Linked DNA regions of Homo sapiens: region 2 is linked to region 1. The links come from fine-mapping of genetic effects on plasma protein levels. Region 1 holds a variant in brackets. A gene starts in the other region. All regions are shown on their reverse strands.

Region 1 (7,540 bases):
ACGCATAGCAGGCAAAGTCGGGAAGTGCTCGGACTCTCTGGCCCTGCTGCCTTATCACGGCAAGACAGCAGGGGGCGCTCCGGTTGCTCCTGCACTCCCCATCGGACATGGAGCCTGAGGCCATGGCCACTCCATCCCCTTACCTACACAGCCTTCCTGCAAGTTCAGCCCAAGGGCAAGTAGCAGCTCAAGTGGCCAATTGTGGGAACCAAGAGGCTGCTGATGGCCCTCTGGGCCTCTGTCTTTGAACTCTAGAGAAGGGGAGACCTCCCCAGGGCTATCTCTCAGAAGCAACTTCGACAACATCAAGGGTCAGGAGAGAGAGCTCCTAGCATCTGTGTGATCAGTGAGGGGGTTGGAGGGGTCTCTTGTTCTTTACGGCACCAGGCAAGTCACTCTTGTTTTCTCAAGAGGTCCTCGTTAGCAATCATCACCTTCCCTGTTATCCTTTTTCTTAAAATAATGATACTAGCTAATAGTGGTGCGCGCACACACACTCCCTCCATGCAGGTACTGTGATGATGAGATGCTTCACAAACCCCTGTGAGGCCAGGGCCAAAATGTCATTTTTACTGATGAGGAAACTGAGGCTCAGAGAGCGGTAGTAACTCACGCAACATCACACAGCATGTAAGTAACGGAACAGGGTTGGTCTGACCCTAAAGCTTGTGCTCTGAACAGGTGCACCATCCTGCCTCCCCTATTTAGGGCTGCCAGATTCAGTAAATAAAAATACAGGATGCCCAATTAACTTTGAATTTTAGATAAACGACAACTTTTTTAGTGTAAGTATATCCCATGCAATATTTGGGACGTACTTACACCAAAAAGTTAACCTGTTGCTTGTCTGAAATTCACATTTGACTGGGCATCCCTGCATTTTATCTGGCAACCCTACCCTCATCCCTAAAGAGCACGGTTCCCACTGCTGCCCTCTGTACCCCACACCCCGGTGTGGCCCCTGGGGTAAGGCCTCTCAGCTCTCAGGGGTGGGCTGCGGCCGGGACCACTCACCAGGATTCTTTTGTAAGGGAAATCCTGCAGTTCCCCATTCCTTGGGGAGTCAAAGACCACCGGGAGGGTCTTGTGCGGCGCCTGAACGTAGCCCAGCTCCATCTCATCCTGCAAGTGAGGAGAGGCGAGAGACGCACAGCTGTGACAGTCAACAGCTGCCCCTGCTGGCTCGGCTCTGAGCCCTGTGGGGCAGACTGCTCACCAAGTCCCCTGGCCCAAGCATGTTTTGTGCTTGGAGGCGGACAGGACCGAGGTCAGGGTGCCTGCTGACTGGAGGAGGGGCTGGAGGCTCAAGGAGGGGGTGCACTTGTCTAAGGTCACACAGCAAGACAGAGGCCGGAGGTGAACGAGAACATGGACATGACCTTGGGGGTGTCCCTGTGAGTACTGGGCCAAGGCAGGTGGACACAGAGAAGCACTCACAGTGGCCTGAGTTGGATCCATAAATGTGCCCAGGTCAGTCCTGACCCCTCTGGTTCTGGAGGAAAAGATGGCCCAGTGTGAATGAACTTCACATCCAGGTCCTGCCCTAAACTCTTTATAAACATTAACTCCATTCATCCTCATGACATGCCTGGGCGTGGGCACCATAATTATCCCATGTGACAGATGAGGAAAATGAGGAACTAAGAGGTCTAATTATTTATCCAGTCCGGGCACGGTGGCTCACACCTATAATCCCAGCACTTTGGGAGGGTGAGGCGGGAGGATTGCTTGAGGCCAGGAGTTTGAGACAACCCTGGGCAACATGGCAAGACCCCATCTCTACAAAAAATTAGCTGAGCCTGGTGGCTGCACCTGTGGTCTCAGCTACTCGGGAGACTGAGGCAGAAGGATCACTTGAACCCAGGAGTTCCAGGCTGCCAGTGAGCTGTGATCATGCCATGGCACTCCAACCAGGGTGACAGAGAGACACTGTCTCCAAAAAGAAAAATAAATTCAAAATATATTAATTTAAAAAAATAAATAAAAATTAAAAAATATTTGTCCCAAAGCTCACAGCTAGTTAGTTGGTGGCACAGCCAGGCTCTAAACCCAGCCCATCGTGCCCCAGAGTCCTGCCCCAAACCCTCTCACTGGACTGACCTCCGGCCAAGAGGAAAGCTCCTTAACTTGGAATTCAAGGTCTCCGACCTCAACCCTTGCCTTTCTCAGAACCAGTGCCCTGACAGAGGAGAACACACAAGGTTCTCTCTCCTGCCTCCCACCCCCGGGCCTTTGCGCATGCTCGGTCTCTGCCAGGACCACCAACCTGTACAGCCTGGTGCTTGGCAGCCTGAGTCCTAGCACTGCCTTTACCAGCTCTGTGGCCCAGTCATGCTCCCCTAAGAGCTCCTGAATTATGGGGGACTTACAGGGGGTTATCAAGAAGATGAAATGATGCTATGCCTGGCCTGCAGAAAATGGGGCATAAATGGCAGAAGTCATGTGCCCTCATCTGCCAAATCTGGTCCAGCTCAGATGCTCTCCCTCCTGGAGGTCTTCACTGATTCCCTGGGCAGAGGTGATGCTGCATCCCCCAAACCCTACTGGTGCTTTGCTGGTATAGCCTCTGCACCCTAGATATTTCTTTTTCTCTCTCTCTCTCTCTCTTTTTTTTTTTTTTTTTTTGTTGTTGTTGCTGAGGCTGGAGTGCAGTGGCACAATCACAGCTCTCTGCAGCCTTGACCTTCCTAAACTCAGGTGATCCTCTGACCTCAGCCTCCAGAGTAGCTGGGACTACAGACACACGCCACCATGCCCTGCTAATTTTTTAACTTTTTTGCAGAGACAGGGTTTCACCATGTTGCCCCAGCTACACACTAGATAGTAGGAGTAGGTATTTTTGTAGCAATCATTCTGCACATCAAGGTTTCTCAGCCTCGACACTACTGAGGCGTGGGACTGGATGATATGTTATTGTGGGGGCTTGTCCTGCGCACTGTCTGCAGATACTGCAAAACGTCTCCTGGGGACACATCGCCTCTTGATGAGAACCACTGGTCTCAGCTGTTGAGGGCAGGGAGTGTGTGTCTCACACCTGTGCCACCCCTGTGGGCCTAGCCTAGTGCCTAGCCCAGATCCGGTGGGTGAATGGGTGTTGAATCCAGGATCAGCGTGGGTCTCCAGAAGGTTCTGGAGAGAAGCCTCTAGGTCTCACATTAGAAACGGCAGCAAGTTCCCTGGGGAGCACCCAGGTCCTCCTGGATGTTTCTCGGTGGCCCCCAAATGAAGGCCTCTCTCTCCAGGATGGCGTCCTTGCTGGGCCCTGCCCAGTGGCTGTGGTTACCTGGATCCAGCGGTCGTTGCGGTTCTCGGCCTGTGGGCAGATGGTCAGCTTGCAGCCGGCCTTCCTGGCCAGCTCTGCCACCGCATCCACAAAACACGTGTTGTTCCTCACACTACGGACAAGCCCAGGGAAGAGGGGCTCAGGATGGAGCCGGGGCCTGGGGGCCAGAGGGACCACCCACTGCCCCAAGACTCACCGGCACACATACACCTCTAGGGGTGGCAGAGTGCTGGGCGTCATGATCCAGGGT[G/A]CCACTCGGAACACCACAGTGTCAGTGAAGATAGGGGATGCCGAGAAATCCTGCAGGGGCAGACCAGGGGAGAAAGAGCACTGGACTTGGAGTCCAGAGGCCTGGGGGGACTCTGATTCCACCACTGTGGTCCATAAGAAAACCCCTTGCTTCTCTGCAAGATGGAAATGAACCAGAGGGGTGGTCAAGAAGTCTGGGGTCTTTCACACCAGTGGTGCCTGGTAGACTTACCAGGAATGGAGTCCTCCCCACTGCCCTTTATTATTATTATTTTTTGGAGACAGGGTCTTACTTTGTTGCCCAGGCTGTGGAGTGCAGTGGGGTGATCATGGCTCACTGCAACCTCAACCTCCCTGGGGTTCAGGTGATCCTCCCACCTCAGCCTCCCAAGTAACTGGGACTATAGGTGTACACCACTATACCTCGCTATTTTTTTTTTTTTTGTAGAGATGGGGTTTCACCATGTTGCCCAGGCTGGTCCCGAGTGGAGCTCCTCTTGAACCCCCTCTGTCCCTACCTCGTTGGAGTCGTCCAGCAGAGTGACATGGAAGGAGATGAGTCCTGTGAAGCCGGCATCAGGGAAGGACAGGCCTTCCACGAAGAAGCGCTCCTCATCCCCATGCAAGCGGGGTACCTCATAGGACACCTTATCTTGGCCCAGCACATGCCTATAGGCCTCACACACATCCTCAGGACCTGGAAGGGGAGGGACGGGGTGGCTGTGACTCCCTGTGGGCCCAGGGAGCATGAGTATGAGGGACACAGGAAGAGGTCTGCAGCCTCACCAAAAATTCCAAGTCCTCCAACAACTCCCTCCTTTCACCTCCACTGGCAAAGGAGAGGACAGGTAATACACAGTGGGGGCCACGGCTGGGGGAAAGGGTCTTCCTTTCTAAGACTGGCGCTCATACCTTTTTGGAGCACAATTTGGCAGCATCCAACAAAGTAATGTTTACCCCAAGCCCAGCAATTCCACTGCTAGGTATCTTTCCTACAAAAATACATCTACAGGCTGGGCACGGTGGCTCATGTCTGTAATCACAGCACTTTGGGAGACCGAAGGCGGTGGATCACCTGAAGTTAGGAGTTCAAGACCAGCCTGGCTAACATAGTGAAACCCTGTCTCTACTAAAAATACAAAAATTAGCCGGGCGGTGGTGGTGCACACCTATAATCCCAGCTACTCAGGAGGCTTAGGCAGGAGGATTGCTTGAACCCAGGAGGCGGAGGTTGCAGTGAGCCAAGATCACACCACTGCACTCCAGCCTGGGCATGGAGCGAGAATCCATCTCAAAAAAAACCAAAACCAACAAAAAACAAAACAACAACAACAAACAAACAATAATAGGTACAAAGTCACATAATATTTCTGTACAAGAGTGCTCGATATTCATTAATTCATCAAATATTTACTGTGCAACTACAGTGCACCCATGGGGCACGGTTCTGGACTTGAACAAAGCCCCTGACCTCAAGCAACCTGCATTGTTATAAAATCAAAACACTGCAAACCACTATGATGTTCAGAGAACTGTGTAAGTCACAGCACCTCTATGCTTAGGAATATTATACAGCAGTGGAAAAGAATGAAGTAGAGCTCAATAAATACCAGAAAAGGTGTGTGGGATTATTACTTAATGAAAGAAGCCGGTTGGAAAGCAGCATATGGACACACGCTGGAGAACATGTAGAATAAAGTTGGGAAGCACACATCCCAACTCGTTAACAGTGACAATCAGATTCAGGCCAGGTGCGGCGTCTCACGCCTATAATCCTAGTACTTTGAGAGGCCAAAGCGGGTGGATTGCTTGAGCCCAGGAGTTCACGACCAGCCTGGGCAGCATGGTGAAACCCTGTCTTTACAAAAAAAAAAAAATTAGCAGGGTGTGGTGGTACATGCCTGTAGTCCCAGCTACTCGTGAGGCTAAGGTGGAAGGATTGCTTGAGCCTGAAAGGTGGAGGCTGCAGTGAGCTGAGATCATGCCACTGCACTCCAGCCCGGGCAACAGAGCAAGACCTTGACTCAAAAAAAAAAAAAAAAAGTCAGATTTAGAGACGGGTAGAGAACTCTCAGGTTTCATTTTCTATACTTCCATATTGTCTGATTATTTAAAAAATAAGCGGCCAGGCACGGTGGCTCACGCCTATAATCCCAGCACTTTGGGAGGCCGAGGCGGGCAGATCACAAGGTCAGGAGATTGAGACCATCCTGGCTAAGACAATGAAACCCTGTCTCTACTAAAAATACAAAAAATTAGCTGGGTGTGGTGGCACATGCCTGCAGTCACAGCTACTTGGGAGGCTGAGGCAGGAGAATCGCCAGAACCCAGGAGGTGGAGGTTGCAGTGACCCGAGGTCACGCCACTGTACTCCAGCCTGAGCAACAGAGCGAGACTCTGTCTCAAAAAAAAAAAAAAAAAAAAAAAAAAAGCATCTTATTACTTGTATACATTTTTAGTTTCTCAAAGGCATTTAGATTTTTACTTGTATTTCTTGTGATTTTGGCAGACTATGTAAAACAACAGCCATCTATATTTGGGGGGAATACAAACTGAATTAATTGGGTGAAATCTATGGTGTTTGGGGTTGGTTTTACAAAACTTCAGCGAGACAGACAAAACAGTGATAATTGTTTAATCTGAGTGACAGGCACATGGGGATTCACAGCACTGCTTTTTGTGTATGTTTGAAATTTTTGATAAGAATTTCTACACATGCTTAAAATGTATTTGAAAAGGTCATTCATCAAATAAAATGACCTCAGGCCAGGTGTTGTGCTGGGGGCACCAGTTCATCAGTTCCAAAGCCCCCACTTCTGACTGTTCTTACTGCGACCCGCCACCCACCAGGGCATCTCCCGGAGTGTAAGCAGGACCTGCCCATGGCCCAAGGCAGGAACAGGAGGTTCCCTGGTAGGCAACCTGGCAACAGGGCACAGATGGCAAGGGGCAGTGGCACAAACTCACCGCAGATGTGGAAGACCTGTGCCCGTTTGGCATCATAGCTGGAGGTATGGAGGACAAGTTTGTGGTCATCAAAGAGGGCTGCAGGGCCCTGCGTCCGCAGGACCATGACAGACATGTCTTCCAGGTCTGTGAAGCCAGACAGAGTGGTAGTGACTCAAGGGAGTCCTGGCCCCTGGCCCCTTCCTCTGCTGCCCAGCTCCCTCCCCAGGTCAGTGGGTATCAAGACCTGGGTCTCCCAGCCCTAGCTTTGTGAAAACCCTGGAAGCCATCAAGAACAAACCATGAAGACATCTATGCTCTCCTGGACTCATGTTTCCTCAATTGCCCAGAGAAACATGAAGTGTGGCATAGCCAGCTGGTGTCTGACACACAACAGGTGCTCCAGAGAAGCAAGGAGGGTAAGGCCATGTGGGCGTCGTGCAGGTAAGGGTTCTGGCCTCCATCCCAGCATCACTCCCTGTGACCCTGGACAAGCCCCTCCCTTCTGGAGCCCCAGCATCCCCATGTCCAATGGTGCCCACTTCAGAAGGCAACCGTGGGCATCTCCCGTGGACAGCACCTAGCATACCCTGGAATATTGCAGCTCATTCTCCATGGGGCTGGAATTCAGGACAGATGGACTTAGCAAGAGGTGGGGGAGTCACAGAAATGTAGGCCAGAGGTGCTGAAGGAGGAGGCCCAGATTTGGGGTTGAGAGGGGAGGCCCCAGATCAGACACAGTCTTCAGGGAGTCTCCTGGCTTCTGAGTCTCAGCATCCTCATCTCTAAATTGGGGTGATGATATTGTCCCACTTGGATGATTCAATGAGAATTTGGGGAAAAGGCCTGGCACACAGTAGGTGCTCAAATAATGCTAGCATCCTCTGCTCCCCTGGAGGAAGAGAATGGCGAGGTGGCTCATTTCCAGAGCTTCTGCCCTGGCATGTGAGTGCTCACTGGCCCTAGAGACACTAGGGAGGGGCAGCTGCCAGCCTGAGATGGGTTTTGAGGAGCATCGAGGTGTGTCTGGAGGCTGGCGCTCTCCCCTGGACTCTGGCCTCA
Region 2 (17,214 bases), not on the chromosome of region 1:
AACTAGAATGAACTCAAAGAGACCCATACTGAGATACATTCTAATCAAACTTAAAAAGTCAAAGACAAACAGAGAATCTTGAAAGCAGCAAGAGAGAAGCAACTCACCATATTCAAGGGATTTTTAATAAGATTATCAGCAGATTTTTTATTGGAAACTTTGGATGTCAGAAGGCATTAGACTGATAATATATTCAAAATGCTAAAATTAAAAAAAGTCTATTAACCAAGAATCCTGTATTAGGCAAAACCATCTTTCAAAGTGAAGGTGCAATTAAGACTTTCCCAGAAAAACAAAAGCTGAAGGAGTTTGTTACTCTTAGACCTACCTTACGAGATGCCCTACAAATGCTAAAGGAAGTCCTACAGGTTGAAATGAAAGGACACTCCATAGTAACTTAAAGCCATATGAAGAAATAAAGATCTCAATAAAGGTAAATATGTGAGCAATTCTAAAATCTAGTATTGTAGTAACAACAGTTTGTAAATCCACTTTTTATTTTCTACATTATTTAAAAGACGAATATATTTTTAGTCTAAAACTAAAAATATTTAGATTTTTAGCCTAAAAACTAGTATTATTTTAGCTTTGGTTTGTGACTCTATATTTTGTTTTTTACATAAAGAAACGGATGCATTTTTAAAATGATGATTTTTGTGTTTGGACATACAATGTATGAAGTTGTAATTTTGTGACATGAATAATTGAACCAGATAGGACAGAATTGTAAAGAAGCAGCATGTTTGTATGTTACTGAAGTTAAATTGGTATAAATTCAAATTAGAGTGTTATAACTTTAGGGTGTTAAATGTAATCCCCATGGTAACCAGAAAAATATAGCTATAGAATATACACAAAAAGGAATAAGAAGCAAATTAAAGTGTTCACTATAAAACAACCAAGTAAACACAAAACAAGACAGTAATGCAGAAGACGAAATACAAAAAGCTATAATGCATATAGTAAACAAACAACAAATGACAGAAGTAAGTGAATGGATTAAACTCTCCAATCAAAAGGTAGAGATTGTCAGAATAAAGTTTTAAAAAATGATCCAACTGTACACTGTCTACGAGAGACTTATTTTAGACCCAAAGACAAAAATAGATTGATAGTAAAAGAATGGAAAAATAAATTTCATGTAAATGGTAACCAAAAGAGAACAGGGGTTGGTATAATAATATCAGATGAAATAGACTTTAAATTAAAAAAAAAAATTACACACAAGAGACAAAGAAGGGCAATGTATATTGTTTCAATACATCAAGAAAGTATAACAATTATAAACATTTACTCACCTAATGACAATAAAAAACATAAGCAAAACCAAACAGAAAAACAAACAGTTCTACAGTAATAGTTGGAGATTTCAATAATACTCTCCCCCTCCAACCCCCATGGATAAAACCAGACAGAAGACAAGTAAATAAACAGAGGATTTAAACAACACAATAAACCAACTAGATACAACAGACATACATAGAACATTCCACCAAATAACAGCAGCATACATATTCTTCTTAACTGTAAATGGAACATTTTCCAAGATAGACCATATGTTAGGCCACAAACTAAGTCTCAATAGATGTTATAGGATAGAAAATATCCACAGTTTCCTCATGAAGTCAATAACAAGTAAAACTAAAAAATTCACAAAATTGTGTAAATTAAGCAATACTCTTAAAAAACCTTTTATTTTAAGTTCAAGGGTACAAGTTCAAGTTTGATACACAAGTAAATTTGTGTTATTGGGGTTTGTTGAACAGATTATTTCATTAGCTAGATATTACGCCTAGTACTCATTAGTTATTTTTCCTGATCTTCTTTCTTCTCTCACCCTCCACCCTCTGAAATTCCCCAGTGTGTTGTTCCCCTATATGTGTCCATATGCAACACACTTTTAATAAGTGGATCAAAGAATTAATCAAAAGGGAAGTGTGAAAACACTTAGAATTGAATAAAAATGAAAACACAACATACTAAAACTTATGGGGTACAGTGAAAGTAGTGCTCAGGAGGAAATGTAGAGCTATAAATACTTAAATTAGCAAACAAGAAAGATCTCAAATAAAAAATGCAACTTTACAACTTAATGAACTGAGAAACAACAAAATAAACTCAAAGCTAGCAGAAGTCAGAAAATAATAAAAATTGGAGCAGAGATATACAAAAGAGAGATAGAGAAAACAGTAGAAAAAATCAATGAAACCAAGTTAATTCTTTGAAAATATTTAAAAAAAAAATTGACAGAGCCAGGTGCAGTGGCTCATGCATGTAATCCCAGCACCCTGGGAGGCCGAGGTGGGCAGATCACTTGAGGTCAGGAGTTTGAAACCAGCCTGGCCAACATGGCGAAATGCCATCTTTACCAAAAATACTAAAATTAGCCAGGTATGGAGGCACACACCTGTAGTCCCAGCTACTCGGGAGGCTAAGGCTGGACAATCGCTTGAACCCGGGAGGCAGAGGTTGCAGTGAACTGAGATTATGCCATTGCACTCTAGGCTGTGTGACAGCAAGACTCCATCTCAAAAAAAAAAAAAAAAAAAAAATTGACAGACATAAATGGACTAAGAATGAAAAAGAGGGAAAACTCAAATTATTAAAATCAGAAATGGAAGTTAGTATATTACTACCAATTCTACAGAAATAAAAATAATTAGAAGAAAGAACTATAAAAAATTGTACACAAATGAAATAACCTTACGAAATGGACAGATTTTGAGAAACACAAAACTTATCAAGACTAAATTATAAAGAAATAAATTTAAAAATCTGAATAGACCTATAGCTAGCAAGGAAATTTAATCAAAAAAATCTTTCAATAAAGAAAATCCCTTGACCTCCTGTCTTCACAGGTGAATTTTGCCAAATATTTAAAGAATAAGTAATATAAATTCTTCTCAAAAATTTTTCAAACTATTGAAGAGAAGGAGACACTTTCTAACTCATTATATGAAGCCAGCATTACCCTGATACCATATCCAGACAGAGACACTACAAGAAAATAAAACTACAGAGTAATATCCCTTATGAACATTGATGCAAAATCTTCAAGAAAGTACTAGTAACATAACCAAGCAGGACTTATTCCTGGAATTCAAGGATGGCTCAAAATATAACAATTGATTGATGTAATACATTCTATTAACACAATGGAAGGACCAAAACACACAATCATTTCAACTGATGCAGAAAAAGCATTTCACAAAATTCAACACCCTTTCATGATTAAAAAAAAAAAAAACTTTCAAAAAACTAGGAATAAAAGGAAACTACTTCAACGTAATAAAGGCCAATTATGACAAGCCCATAGCTAACATCACACATAATGGTGAAATACCTGAAGGTTTTTTTCTTTCAGATCAGGATCAAGGCAAGGATGCCAGCTTTCACCACTTCTATTCAGCATAGTACTGGAAGTCCTAGTTAGAGCAATTAGTCAAGAAAAATAAATAAAGGGGATCCAAACTGGAAAGAAAGAAGTAAAACTGTCTCCACATATGATCTGATCTTACGTGTAAAAAACCCTGAAGATTCCACACAAAATACTGTTAGGAAGAATAAATAATTTCAGCAAAGTTTCAGGTATAAAATTAACATAAAAATCAGTTGTAATCCTATACACTAACAATAAACAATATAAAGGAAATTTTGAAAAGAATTTCATTTACATCATTGAAAATAATAAAATATTTGGGAATTATTCAATGTGATAAAAACTTGTACAATGAAAGCTGCAAAATTTTGCTGAAATAAATTAAGACATAAATAAATGGAAAGACATCCTATGATTATGAATTGGAAGACTCAATACTGGTAAGATGTTAATACTACCCAAAGCAATCTACAGATTTAATGTAATCCTTTTCAAAATTTCAATGACATGTTTTGCAGAAATAGAAAAATCCATACTAATATTCATAACATTTCCAAGGACCCCCAAATGGCCAAAATGATCTTGAAAAAGAATGTATTTGGAGGGCTCAGACTCCCTGCTGTCAAAACTTATTTCCAAGCTATAATAACCAAAATAGTATAGTCTTGGCAGAAAGGTAGACACAAAGACTACCTTAGTCCATTTAGGCTATAATAAATCAATACAAACTAGGGAGCTATACATAATAGAAATTTATTTACCATAGTTCTTGAAGTTGGGAAGTCTAAGATTAAAGTGTTATTCAATGTCTGGGAAGGGTCCACTTACTGCCTACCCATTGTGTCCTCACATGGTGGAAGCAATAAGCTACTTCTCTGGGGTTTCTTTTATAAGGGCTTGAATCTCAATCAAGAGGGTTTCACTCTCATGATGTAATCAACTCCAAAAGGCTTTTCCTCCTAATACCATCAACTTGGAGGTTAACATTTCAACATACGAATTTTGGGGGCACACAAGCATTTAGACCATAGCAAAGAAGAAAACATAGAGCAAAAAATTCATTCCATTGGATTTGGCAGTGATTTCCTGAATATGACACAAAAGGGACAGGCAACAAAAGAAAAAATAGTCAAGTTGTACTTTATGAAAGTTAAACATTTTGTACATCAAAAGACACTATCAGCAGTGTGGAAAGGTAGACCTGGAGAAAATATTTGTGAATCATATCTCTGAAAAGGGATTAATACCCAGAGCAGCTGGGCACACTGGCTCATGCCTATAATCCCAGCTACTCACTTTGAGGCTGCAGTGAGCTATAATTCCACCACTGCACTCCAGCCTGGGTGACAGAGTGAGACCCCATCACTAAAAAAAAAAAAAAAAGAACATCTAGAGAACCTCTAAAACTCAACAAGAAGAAACAAACAACCTGATTTACAAAATGGGCCAAGAACTTGAATAGACATTTCTCCAACGAAGTTATATAAGGTAGGGTGTGGTGGCTCACACCTATAATCCCAGCACTTTGGGAGGCTGAAGAGGGCAGATCCTTTGAGGCCATGAGTTTGAGACCAGCCTGGCCAACATAATGAAACCCCATCTCTACAAAAAATACAAAAAAATTAGCTGGGCAAGGTGGTGCATGCTTGTAGTTCCAGCTGCTCAGGAGGCTGAGGCACGAGAATCGCTTGAGCCTGGGAGGTGGAGGTTGCAGTGAGCCGAGGTCATGCCACTGTACTCCAGCCTGAGTGACAGAGAGAGATTCTGTCTCAAAAAAAAAAAAAAAGAAGAAGATATATAAATGTCCAATAAGCATATGAAAAGATGCTCAACATCCCTGTGACTATATGAAGGGTAAGATATATTTATTTATTTATTTATTTATTTATTTATTTATTTATTTTTGTCCGTGGTTCTTGGCTCAGAACTCCCACAGCCTTGTTATTTCATAAGTAGCTAGGTATTCAGCCTTCTGTCTTTGATCCCTGAAGCAACTTCAGGAAAGTGTCAGAGCAATAAACATGAAGGACAGCGTTTTGTTACAATATTGGCCTCAGAAGCAGGCCTCAGAAAACAGAATCTCTGTCTCTCTCTCTCTCTGACCTTCTCCTGCCCTCCTTTCATATGCTCCTTTTGTGGCAGGCTAGGTCTCACTAATGCAGGCCTCCACTACAACTGTCCCAGCACTGACTGAGTAACAAGGTTAACCATTAAAAGATGATTGAGCCAGTGCCCGTATACAAAGGCTGGAGTGTAACAAAGAGCTCACCAAGAGTTTTTGCCTAGTCTTTTCCTGGGCCTTGAAGCATGACAAGATAATGAAGGAATTGTTAATAGGACCCTTTTAGGATTTAACAAGTTTTATTGGGGGTCTGAAGAAACTCCCCAGGCCTCCACAAAAAAGTTTATTGGTGTCTAAAGGAACTCCCCAAACCTTTATGATTTAGCGGGAGGCAAGATAAAGGTAATCACCCCAGCACCTAGATCCATTTAGATTCAGTAAACTTACTGAGGCTCCAGAAGAAGGTCTTCAGGACTCAGACCTTAGCTATAGATTAAAAGAAGTTAATCACTTATGTCTTTAGATGAATGCACATTTACACATAGACATATAGCTTAGAAGGTATAGAAGCTCTGGAAAACTTTGTTATTTTGAGTTGGTCTGGCAATAATTTCCAGGCCTTCTCTCTGTAACTGGTTACAGAAATTAAAACTTTCTTCCTCCCCACTTCTTCTGCATCTTGTTATGGGGCCAAGAGAAATGGCAGCTCAACCTTCAGTTTGGTCCGGGAACATTTTTTTCTCCCCAAGGCAGGTCATAAAAGCTAAAAATATACTCTCCTCTAACCCCACCACTCTGTGTTGGAGCTGGACATGAAAAAATGCTCTGACTTACCTTGTCTGATTGCAGGTCATCATAATAAAAAATCTCACAACAAAGATAATCTCTGGACCTCTTGGCGTCACAGGTGAATTTTACCAAACATTTAAAGAACGACACCAATCCTTCTCATATTTTTCCAAAATGTTGAAGAGAAGGAAACCGTTTTTAATTCATTCTAGTAGGCCAGCATTATCCTGATAGTAAGGCCAGGCAGAGACACTACAAGAAAGGGGTCCTGCTCCAGGGAACCAAAGAAGAACTAAACAGGTAGGCCTTGCTGGGTTTCCTCACTCAGTCTTTTGTATTATAATCATACTTTTTTGGTCCAATTACATTTCTACATTGTTGTCTGTGTTTCAATCATGACTGTCTGATGACATCTGCTTAAAGTCTGAAGAGATGGGTTACAGAGAGCTTCCAGTAGCTGAACACAGGAGGTTTCTGGAGGGTGGAGTACCTGGGGAGGCTTCATGCCCCTGACCCCATACCTCACCCTATGCATCTCTTCATCTGTATCCTTTGTAATATCCTTTATAATAAACCAGTAAACATAGTGTTTCTTTGAGTTCTGTGAGCTGCTCTAGTAAATTAATCAAACCCCAGGAGGCGGTCATGGAAACCCCAGCTTGAAGCCTGTTGGTCAGAAGTTCCAGCGGCCTGGACTTGCTACTGGTGTCTGAAGTTGGGGGCAGTCTTGTGAGATTGATTTTACCTCCAGGGAGATTGTGTCAGAATTGAATTGAGTTAGAGGACACTCAGCTGGTGTCTGCTGTAGAATTTATTACGAGCTTGTTGGTGGGGAGAAATCCCCACATATTTGGTCACAGAAGTTTTCAGTGTTGATTGTTGTAGTATGAGAGCAGAGGAAAAATAGTTTGTGCTTTTTCCACTCAGAATCACTAATTATTAGGAAAATGCAAATCAAAACCACAATGAGATTCCTTCTCACACCTATCAGAATAACGACTATTAACAAAAACTGGAAAATAACAAGTGTTAGCAAGGATGTAGAGAAATTGGAACCCTTGCATACTGTTGGTAGAAATGTAAAGCCACTGTAAAAAACAGTATGACAATTCCTTTAAAAATTAAAAATAGAATTACCATGTGATCCAGCAAGTCTACATCTGGATGTATACCCCCAAAATTGAAAGCAGGGTCTCAAAGAGATATTTGTACACCCATGTTTATAGCAAGTTATTCACAATAGCTAAAACATGGAAGCAACTCAAGCATCCATGGACAGATGCATAGATAAGCAAAATGTAGTATATAGATGCAATGAATTATTATTACTCAGTATTAAAAAGAAGGAAATTCTGACATATGCTACAACACAGATGAACCTTGAGGACATGATGCTAAGTAAAATAAGCCAGTGATGAAAGGGCAAACACTATATTATTTCACTTACATGAGGTACCTAGAGTAGTCAAAATCACAGATAGAATGTATTAATAGAACCATGGTTCCTAGGGTCTGTGGGAAAAGGGGAATACAAAGTTACTATTTAACAGGCACAGAGTTTCAGTTTTGCAAGATGAAAAGAGTTCTGGATATGGATGGTGGTGATGGTTGCACAACAATATGAATGTACTTAACACCACTGAAATGCATGCTTAAAATGGTTAAGATAGCAAATATTTTGTGTATTTTACCACAATAACTCTCCCACCAAAAAAAGGTGATTATATAACCAAAGGAGAAGGGAGAGTTAAAAAGAGTTAAAGGTGTACAAGTGGATGTCCCCGGCCCCTAAACCCAAATTTATCATGAGCAATTCCTTCCACCCTCTCCCTTAAACTTGTTCCTCATCCTCTTTTCCACATCTCAGCAACGTCAGAATGTTCCATCTTGTTTTTCATTTCAAAACTCTTAAAATCATTCTCGAATAATCCTCCTTCCTCACTCCATAACATTTACTTTATTTTTTAAAATATTGATTATATTAACTTCAAACTTCTTTACTATGTTTGCTTTTCTTCTTCCCACCACCCATATTACTGTAATTTTTTTCTTTAATTACTTCAGAGTTCTGTCTTTAGGTCTCTATTACCTCCAGTCTTTCCTAAGCCCTGTAGACTTTATGAATGATTAGATAATGGAAATCTGACTGGGACATTCACTGATTAAAACCTTTTAGTGACTCTCATTGTAGGCAGAAAAGGTCCAATCCTGTTAGCATGGCATGTGGAAGCTGTCTTATCCTTGCCTTTTTTAAATCTAACTCTCCAGTTTTATCATGTCTCTGTTCTCTTCACATTTCTTGCTTCCATCATACCAACATGCATCTTCTTTCTTGCCTCAAGGTTTCTGTTTGTTTTGTACTTTACATTCTGCTTCTTCCTGGGCAGAATTCATTTTTTCCCACTCCCTTCTTCTCAAGCCTTCCTCATCCCTAATGTTGCCTCTGTGCTAATCCTTTACAAAGTCCGTTTATGTAGGTATATTTGTGAATTTAGTCATTTTTGAAAATGTAGTCTTCAAGTCTAATTATTATTTTTCAATTGGTGTGGAATCATAGAATAAGAAGATCCAGTTCAATATAAATTTGATAGATAAGTCAAATTCACGTTCCTATATTTTCACCATAAAACTAAGTCCATAGATACATCCAAGAAAGATCTTCAAGTAACAGCTCCCCAATTTATCCCATTTATCTTGCCTGGGATCTCTGTGAAGCTCATATAATTTTCCACTTTTTGACATTGTTTCTATCAATACATACATAAAGGCATAGAGGACACTGTACTCTGAAAGGAAGAGAGGCAGGATTAAGTGAGTACCTCTCCAAAACCCACAGTGTGGTCATAGAGTCCACCTATATCTTGAAGCAGATATGAATAGTCCAAAAAGCCAGTCACTCCCTCTTTAGAAACACAGGATCAGGTTAAGTAATGAGCTGGCTATCCCCTCTTCCCTAATTCCCACTCTAGCCATCAAAGGGCTACAATTTCTGATTTAGATATACTCCTTTCAAAGTCTGAAGCATTACTGACCTCAGTTTTCATGTAAAAATTACTTGTCAGTTTTCAGCAGATGACCCAGCCTCTTGCTTAGAACAGTGATTTTTTTCCCCAGTGTCTCCAGTACTAAAAGATGAGGAATGACTAAAGATCTGTTCCTGATTGAAGGAGACTAAAGAGACATGATGGCTGAAAGCAACGCATGATCACGGACAGGATTCTGGGTCAGAAAGGCTGGGTTTTTTCCCTTTTTTTTAGTAGGAAAAGGAAAAACTGTCAGGACAATTGGTAAGGTTTGAGTGGGGTCTGTGGATTAGATAGCAGTATTGCCATCAGTGTTGATTTCCTGATTGAGATCCTTGTTTGGAGAGGAGTGGGGCAACATTTCTCAACTTACTCTCAATGACTGAGCAACAAACAGCTTGCTTCTTATGAAGAGAGAGAGGGAGGGAGGGAGGGAGAGAGATAGAGAGAGGTAGGGACAAAAGTGTTGGAATGTTGACAATTGTGAAATCTGGGCAAAGAGTATATATGGGAGTTTTCTGTGTTGTTCGGGAAGTGTTTTTGTAATTATTTCAAATTTAAAAGGTAACCAAAAAAAACCTCAACCAAATAGAATAAAGTTAGGGGAAGAAGGTGGCATGAAACAAGAGAAAATATCAATTGCCAAAAAATGAATTTGCCTAAAAATTCTTTACATGTTAATAAATATGATATGCATAACTCCTTAGAAAGAAATTGCTATTTTTTAGCGAAGACTTGGACTAACCCAAATGCCCATCAATCATAGACTGGATAAAGAAAATGTGGCACATATACACCATGGAATACTATGCAGCCTTAAAAAAGAATGAGTTCATGTCCTTTGCAAGGACATGGATGAAGCTGGAAGCCATCATTCTCAGCAAACTAACACAGGAACAGAAAACCTAACACCACGTGTTCTCACTCATAAGTGGGAGTTGAACAATGAGAACACATGGACACAGGGAGGGGAACATCACACACTGAGGCCTGTCAGGGGGTGGGGGCCAACGGGAGGGAGAGCATCAGGACAAATACCTAATGCATTCAGGGCTTAAAACCTAGATGACAGTTGATAGGTGCAGCAAACCACCATGGTACATGTATACATATGTAACAAACCTGCACATTCTGCACATGTATCCCAGAACTTAACGTAAAATTAAAAATAAAAAAAAAAAGGAACAGTCCTACTACAGGTGAATTTTCAAGGTGGTCAGCCGCCTCCATATGCTCTTAAATAGTGAGCACTTCAAATAAATAACCTTCACCAAAAACAAAAGAAAGAAATTGCTATTTTTATATATACCTATTAAGCAGTAAATAATAGATAAGAGATGGACTTATTTTGTAACTAGTAAAAATAAACTGGAAGTTGTCATATTAAAACAATTACTTGCTCAGAGTTAATTTGGTATGGTTGTTTTAAGTAAAATTTTTATTATAAGTGAAGTGATCCAGAAGTAAAAACAATGTAAAAATTCTCTTATAAGCCCCATATATAAAAAAATTATTGGAAAAAGTGATGTTTTAAAAAAATATATCTTTTATGTTAAGCAAATAGTCTCTTGAAATTATAACATCAATTCCTCTAGTGTAGAAAATACTAGCAAATGGAAGACTATTTCAATGACAAATATCACATTCAGACTATTAACCAAAGTTAATTTCAAAATACTTGTTTTCCTTATTGGATAATATAATATCGTCTTAAAAAGAAAAATTTTAAATAATTACTTTTCAGAGTCCTAGATTAAATGTACACTTTGAAAAGTCATTATATTATTGCATCTTTAAAATTGAAATTGAATGATGAACACAGTAAGGAATATGATACTTAGAGGTGTCACTGCATGTGGAAATAAGAATCTTAGATGCTTTATCAAATCCAGCTAAAGTACTATATGTGCAACAATAAATTATCAGACATATTTCTGAATACTTGTGTAGCTTCCAGTATATGTTTAACTTTACCAGTATCCATCATCAGTGGCAACCATAGCATCTCAAAATTAAAAATTATTCAAAACTACTTGATGTCTTAAAATGTCACAAGAAAATCAATATAGAAAATGAGATGCTGAAAGTTCATAGAAAAATGACATATTGGAGAAATGAGCCTTGAAACTGTCATAAGAACAAGACATGTAACTATTCTATAACAAACTACAGTATTCTAGTTCCTTTACTAGGATTAACATTAGGAACAATCTGATTAAAAATTTTTTTTCTACTTGAGGAAATGGTGTTCACTTTTTTTATATAATCAAACCAAAGTGCCAAAGGCTAGCGGTGGTAGCAACAGAAATAGCAGAGAACTTTCTTAGTTGAGAAGGGAGACTTGTGCTATATAACTGAGAAAGATGAAGAGAGTCTGAGCATCCCTCCACCATCTGATAATGACCAGAATAAAAGGCCTGTCATAGGACCAGGTCAGGAGAAGATAATGTACTAAAACTCTGTCTTTAGTCACTGTTAGAGAGATAAAGAACACTAATGAGAATTACCAGTTAAAAAAAATACTACTTATTTCTTTGGTCACTCATCCATAAAACATTTATTGAACACTTATGATATGCCAGATACTGTCTTAAGGATACAGAAGTGAGTGGAAAATATTTTCTTTTTTTGATATACTCATAGAATAGCTCAGGAGACAGCTGGGAAATAGCTCTTTGCAGTACTATGAAATAAGCTAATATACTTCTCTTAAACATTTATTTCTATCTTCACGCCATGGGGATTATCTAGCTCTGAACCAGTGTCACAGGGAAAGAGATGTTTGAGTTGGTTCAGGAAGATGGGTCTCTGCTGTCATGAGGCCAGCTCTATGTGATTCATGCAACTGGTTGTTGTGAAGGTCCAAATTCACCATTTGGTGAAGCTATTTACAAAGGCGTAGTAATTATGAAGACTTCTTCTACAAGTAACAAAAGCTCAGAGACAAAACTGTTTAAATAAGAATGGAATTTATTAACTAACATAATATAAATTTTTGAAATAAAGTGGCCTTCAGTTCCTTCCACGTTTCTGCTCTGCTATCCTCAGTTCTGGCCCCATCTTTGAGGAGGTAACACAATGGATGCAGCACTTGTAAATATCACGTGAGATAGAAAAATGTGTAGAGGCAAAAGAGAGACTGTCTCTCCCTTTGGTTCTCTCCTAGGGGTGGGGAATTTTACAGAAGCCAGAATTTTTATTTTATTTTATTTTAAGTTCTGGGATACATGTGCAGAACGTACAGGTTTGTTATATAAGTAAATGTGTGCCATGGTGGTTTGCTGCACCTATCAACCCATCACGTAGGTATTAAGCCCCACATGCATTAGCTATTTATCCTGATGCTCTCCCTCCCCCCATAGCCCTGGCCCCAACAGGCTCCAGTGTGCATTGTTCTCCTCCTTGTGTCCATGTGTTCTTACTGTTCAGCTCCCACTTATAAGTGAGAACATGAGGTGTTTTTCTCTTCCTGCGTTAGTTTGCTGAGGATAATTGAAACCAGAAATCTGATGTTAGCTTTTGTCTCATGGGCCAACTGAGTTCTAAACGGACCACAGGAATATCATTCTATGACAGGAGAATCAAAACAACAAGGAAGATTATGCTGATGGGAGACCTTTGCTACACTACCCAGCTGGCCAACAGGCATAGCAATGTATGCTTGCTTTCTTTAAAGCAGAGAGTGCATACACATCTCGAACCAGTTAAGCAAACGTTTAACAACTTGCTCTATATTTGAACATCACCTCTGAATGCACTTTCAACTGCTGAGGCACTTATTTTGAGCTTGGGTCTTAGTTTCCTGAAATTAACTCCAGGATTTTCACTTACCCTGTTTTGCACTGTAGATAATTTAATAATTGTCCCACCCATAAAGATATCACATTATATGTTTCTTCTTTATATGTTTTCATCAAAAGCCATCCTTTATTCCACTTAAGTTATTGTTTTACAGTACCAAAATATCAACCTCCTGTTTATTTTGTTCACAAACAATATTTTCTGAATTAAATAAATACTTCATACAAAGCAGGTAAAAATATAAATATTCTTCTTCTGGTCCCTGACACTAACTTTCCAACATCTTCTAAAGTTAACTGGAGTTCAAAACCGTAATGTAAATCAACAGCTACTGAATCTACTCCTTCTTACTAAACTCAGTACCTGCAAAGTCCACTTCCATTATTGGGGTTGCAGAAGATGGTTTCAGAAGTAATGGCACAGAGATTGAAACCATTTGCTGCCTTTGTCTTTCTTTTAGAATGCAGATTCCAAACATCTTTTTCTATATGAAACTTGCCAAAATTTTTTCTTATAATTTAAAATATCTTTTAATGTAGAGTTTACTTTGTAAGCCTGAAAGACGAATTTTGTAGGCATTCGCTCTGCTTCCTTTTCAGAGCTTAAATCATATACTATTATCCAATGATAATTGTCACCTTTCTTTCCTGTCCTCAATTACCTTCGATTAACAACAATGATAATATATTAATAATACCCTCCATTTCCCTCCAAGCAATTATAGGCATTTTAGTTACATTAACTAATATCAACCCATCAACCCTGTAAGGAAGGGAAGGGAAGATATTATTTTAATGAAGAGGATGTTTGAGCACTGTGACTTACCCAAACAAAAAACAGCTGAGGTGGACCAAGCAAGGATTTCTTGTCTTAGGTAGGAAAACATCTCAGCCAGGTGTTTATCAATTTGTCAGGATATTCCTCCAGGGTTGACTCAGTATTCATTGTTCAAAAAGCTGATGTCTATTGAAGATTGTCTCCGTTCCACAAGTAATATTTGTCAGGTGACTTGGGTGTAAATCTTTTTGCTAGAAGCTAAAATCATTGACCAGAATTTAATTTTACATGCTAATTTTCTGTCTCTTAATTTGGAGGTAAATAAAATGAGTCAAATGCTGGTGCCTAGAATCTTTAGTCTTGCTGCTGTTGCCCATTGGCCATTTCAGAAGAGTCACGTGATGAAGACGCTCTTTAAATTAAACTACTGGCAGCACCGTAATGCCTATATTTCTTTGGTTTTCAATTACGAGTGGCTCTTCTCAGCAAGTGTTCCATGATGGTTGAGCCCTTCTTGGGAACCTGGAAGCTGGTCTCCAGTGAAAACTTTGAGGATTACATGAAAGAACTGGGTGAGAAATACCATTACAAATTTGGAAATTGGCAAAGCATTTTGTGATGTGATTGGGTTTGTACTTTACCATGAATTTTCCTACAATTATCTTCCTTTTGTGATCCTAGGGTATATAGACTAACACAATGTATGCTTCTACTTTTGCTTTTTTAAATTACTAGTAATAATTGTCTCTTTTTGGAAGACTAGGCCCACAGACACCTCTGTCCAGTCATGATCCATATATTTAAGCCCATTTATCCTTTTTGAAAATACTTCACCTAACTTCTAGATAGAATTTCATTTTAGCTTGGTCATTTCATTTAATAACATTTTTCCCAGCTTCAAATTTATAGACAGTAATCACTACCTACAATTAAATTGATCAATTAAATTTGTTTCAAGGTTTAAGTTATAGCTTTAAAACAGCAGTATCAACTAACAAAATTTCTAGTTGGTTAATTTTTAGAGTTCTCATAAATGTGAGAGATATTTTATAAACATGGTTTTGAAGAATTACAAATCTGAAGAAACACAACATTTTTACTCATTGAATGTCTCACCACTGGATATTCCTCAGAATTATAAACCCTACCAATCCTTTAATCTCTAACTCAAGTCATTTAGTTACACATTAATTATAATGACTTGGGTGTATAATAGCTAAACTGTTCTTTACTAATGGAAGAACAGCAATTATTTCATATTTTTCATATTTAATTAAGAGAAACCTCCCTTGTAGTAAACTGTATACAAAGCCAAGGACTTTCTTATCTTTACTTTTTTTTAACTTACATAACATGCTTAATGGATGCTTACAATTATTAATTATGTTTACTCATTCTAGACAATGAAATAACAATGCCTTATCCCCATAATAAGTCAATGTGCTTATAAATGTAATATTTGTTCCTCTGATGTAGTCAATATTCACTTTCTCAGAGGGTCATAAGAAACAAGTTTTTCTGTCTCTTCATAGATTTATAGACTCACTTGTTTTGAATAAAAATTGGGGGGGTATATAAAAAACTTGGGCCTTATGGCCAGAGTAGCACTTGTGTTGACTGGGAGCTGGGTTTAGGCATAATACAAGCAAGAATAACAGCTGAGCAGTTTCTATGTGCCAGTACCATGCTAACCCCTTTCATTTAACCTTTTAAAACATCCGCTGGCTGGGTACAGTGGCTCAGGCCTCCAATCCCAGCACTTTGGGAGGCCAAGGCAGGTGGATCACCTGAGGTCAGGAGTTCGAGATCAGCCTGGCCAACATGGTGAAACCCCATCTCTACTAAAAATACAAAAATTAGCTGGGCATGGTGGCATGTGCCTGTAATCCCAGCTACTCGGGGGGCTGAGGCAGGAGAATCGCTTGAACTTGGGAGGCAGAGGTTGCAGTGAGCTGAGATTGTGCCACTGCACTCCAGCCTGGGCAACATAGCGAGACTCTGTCTCAAAACAAAAAACAAACAAACAAACAAACAAAAAAAAAACTTGCGAGGTCAAGTATACAGTTATCCACACTTTACTATTGAGAAAACTGAAGGTTAGGAGAGGTAAATAATATGCCCAAGCTAGCAAGTGGCCAAGTTAGAGCCTGGGTTTTAACCATCTCACTCTTCTTTGTGATGCAGATGTCTAACACTGCTTCTCTACAGTAAGATGTGTCATATCAGTTCCACAATCTAAATGTGAAATGGAGTTTGATATCAGGACAGAGAAGGAGTCAGCTCTTCTGCCCACCAACTGCAGGAGTCAAGTTTGACAATGGGAAATTCCCAACCAAACCACAGGGCCAGGCTCTAAGTCAAACTCCTCCCGCACCCACAAGGTTATCGTAACACTCCACAAGGTGAAGTGCAAGCATTTGATCTCTTGAAAGGCACCATACAAATTTACATTTTAGAGGAAGTGTAATAGTCTCAGAGAGTGAATTTAGCTTTTCAAAATGTCACATATATACCTTATGACTGGGAGGATCTAGCTCAGCCCTGATATCACAGAAAACATAAAATAAGTTACTATACATTATCCAAAATTTCAAAATAGGTAAAGTAAGCATTCTTTGAAAATTGACTTCCAGAGTGATTGTTAACAATGTCTTAATAAGGTCCAAGGCTATCTCTGTCTTGTAGGAGTGAATTTCGCAGCCCGGAACATGGCAGGGTTAGTGAAACCGACAGTAACTATTAGTGTTGATGGGAAAATGATGACCATAAGAACAGAAAGTTCTTTCCAGGACACTAAGATCTCCTTCAAGCTGGGGGAAGAATTTGATGAAACTACAGCAGACAACCGGAAAGTAAAGGTCAGAACTAATTCTTCCTGGTGTTCAACAATCAGGAAAAAGTTAGAAGGTGGTTAGGCATGGTTTACTGTAATTTGATTTATCACCAAGTCTGTCTGGGCTTGTTCTGTTAATAGTCGCACATCTCTAAAGTTAATCCTTTTGCTAATTATTTTGATGGTTAACAATAGGGCTAAAAGATTCAAATTGTTTTCATTTCATTTTTTCTTATCTCTTTGTCATATGAAAGAGCACATAGAAAGAAACAACTAAACACAAATAGCTTATGCATTGTTTGCCTAGGAAAGAGCACTAATTGAATAATCTCTTGAGACTTCTAGTTTGATAGTACTACATCATGACAACAAAAGTGAGGATTTTAAGAAAAGAATTTCAAAATAGAAATTAAAAAGTAGATATGTGGTCTCATGTAGGTTAGAAGGTAGTGAGTTGCTACTTCTGATTTCTTTATGCATTTATAGAGCACCATAACATTAGAGAATGGCTCAATGATTCACGTCCAAAAATGGCTTGGCAAAGAGACAA

Which allele goes with the higher level. Positions count from the first base shown, and alleles are read on the strand shown. Strength reflects both the effect of a copy and how common the allele is.
With allele G in place of A in region 1, the plasma level of the protein whose gene starts at base 14,275 in region 2 is lower (weak association).

What was found. PIP is the chance, under the fine-mapping model, that this variant and not a neighbour inherited with it causes the effect. Protein levels are from antibody-based Olink assays in UK Biobank. Linkage for the fine-mapping came from a reference panel and not from the study's own genotypes, which makes the PIPs less certain.
Region 2: it holds the start of FABP9, and the variant in region 1 is fine-mapped to the plasma level of the FABP9 protein (UK Biobank, PIP above 0.99).

The regions. Positions count from the first base shown.
Region 1 is chr1:17,266,922-17,274,461 of GRCh38, reverse strand. PADI3 (peptidyl arginine deiminase 3) reads right to left here. Exons shown (of 16, transcript NM_016233.2): 6 at 6,500-6,625; 7 at 4,051-4,229; 8 at 3,480-3,583; 9 at 3,284-3,395; 10 at 1,015-1,122. Among named protein-coding and RNA genes, the nearest start is that of MIR3972, 7.2 kb to the left of the region's middle. RefSeq lists an enhancer at 1-465 and a silencer at 3,522-3,765. The variant G/A (reference allele first, on the strand shown) is at 3,534.
Region 2 is chr8:81,458,640-81,475,853 of GRCh38, reverse strand. It overlaps FABP9 (fatty acid binding protein 9), which reads left to right and starts at 14,275. Exons shown (of 4, transcript NM_001080526.2): 1 at 14,275-14,403; 2 at 16,517-16,689; 3 at 17,151-17,214. The coding sequence starts at 14,331. It overlaps LOC101927118 (a long non-coding RNA gene), which reads right to left and starts at 14,396. Exons shown (of 9, transcript XR_001745980.2): 1 at 13,880-14,396.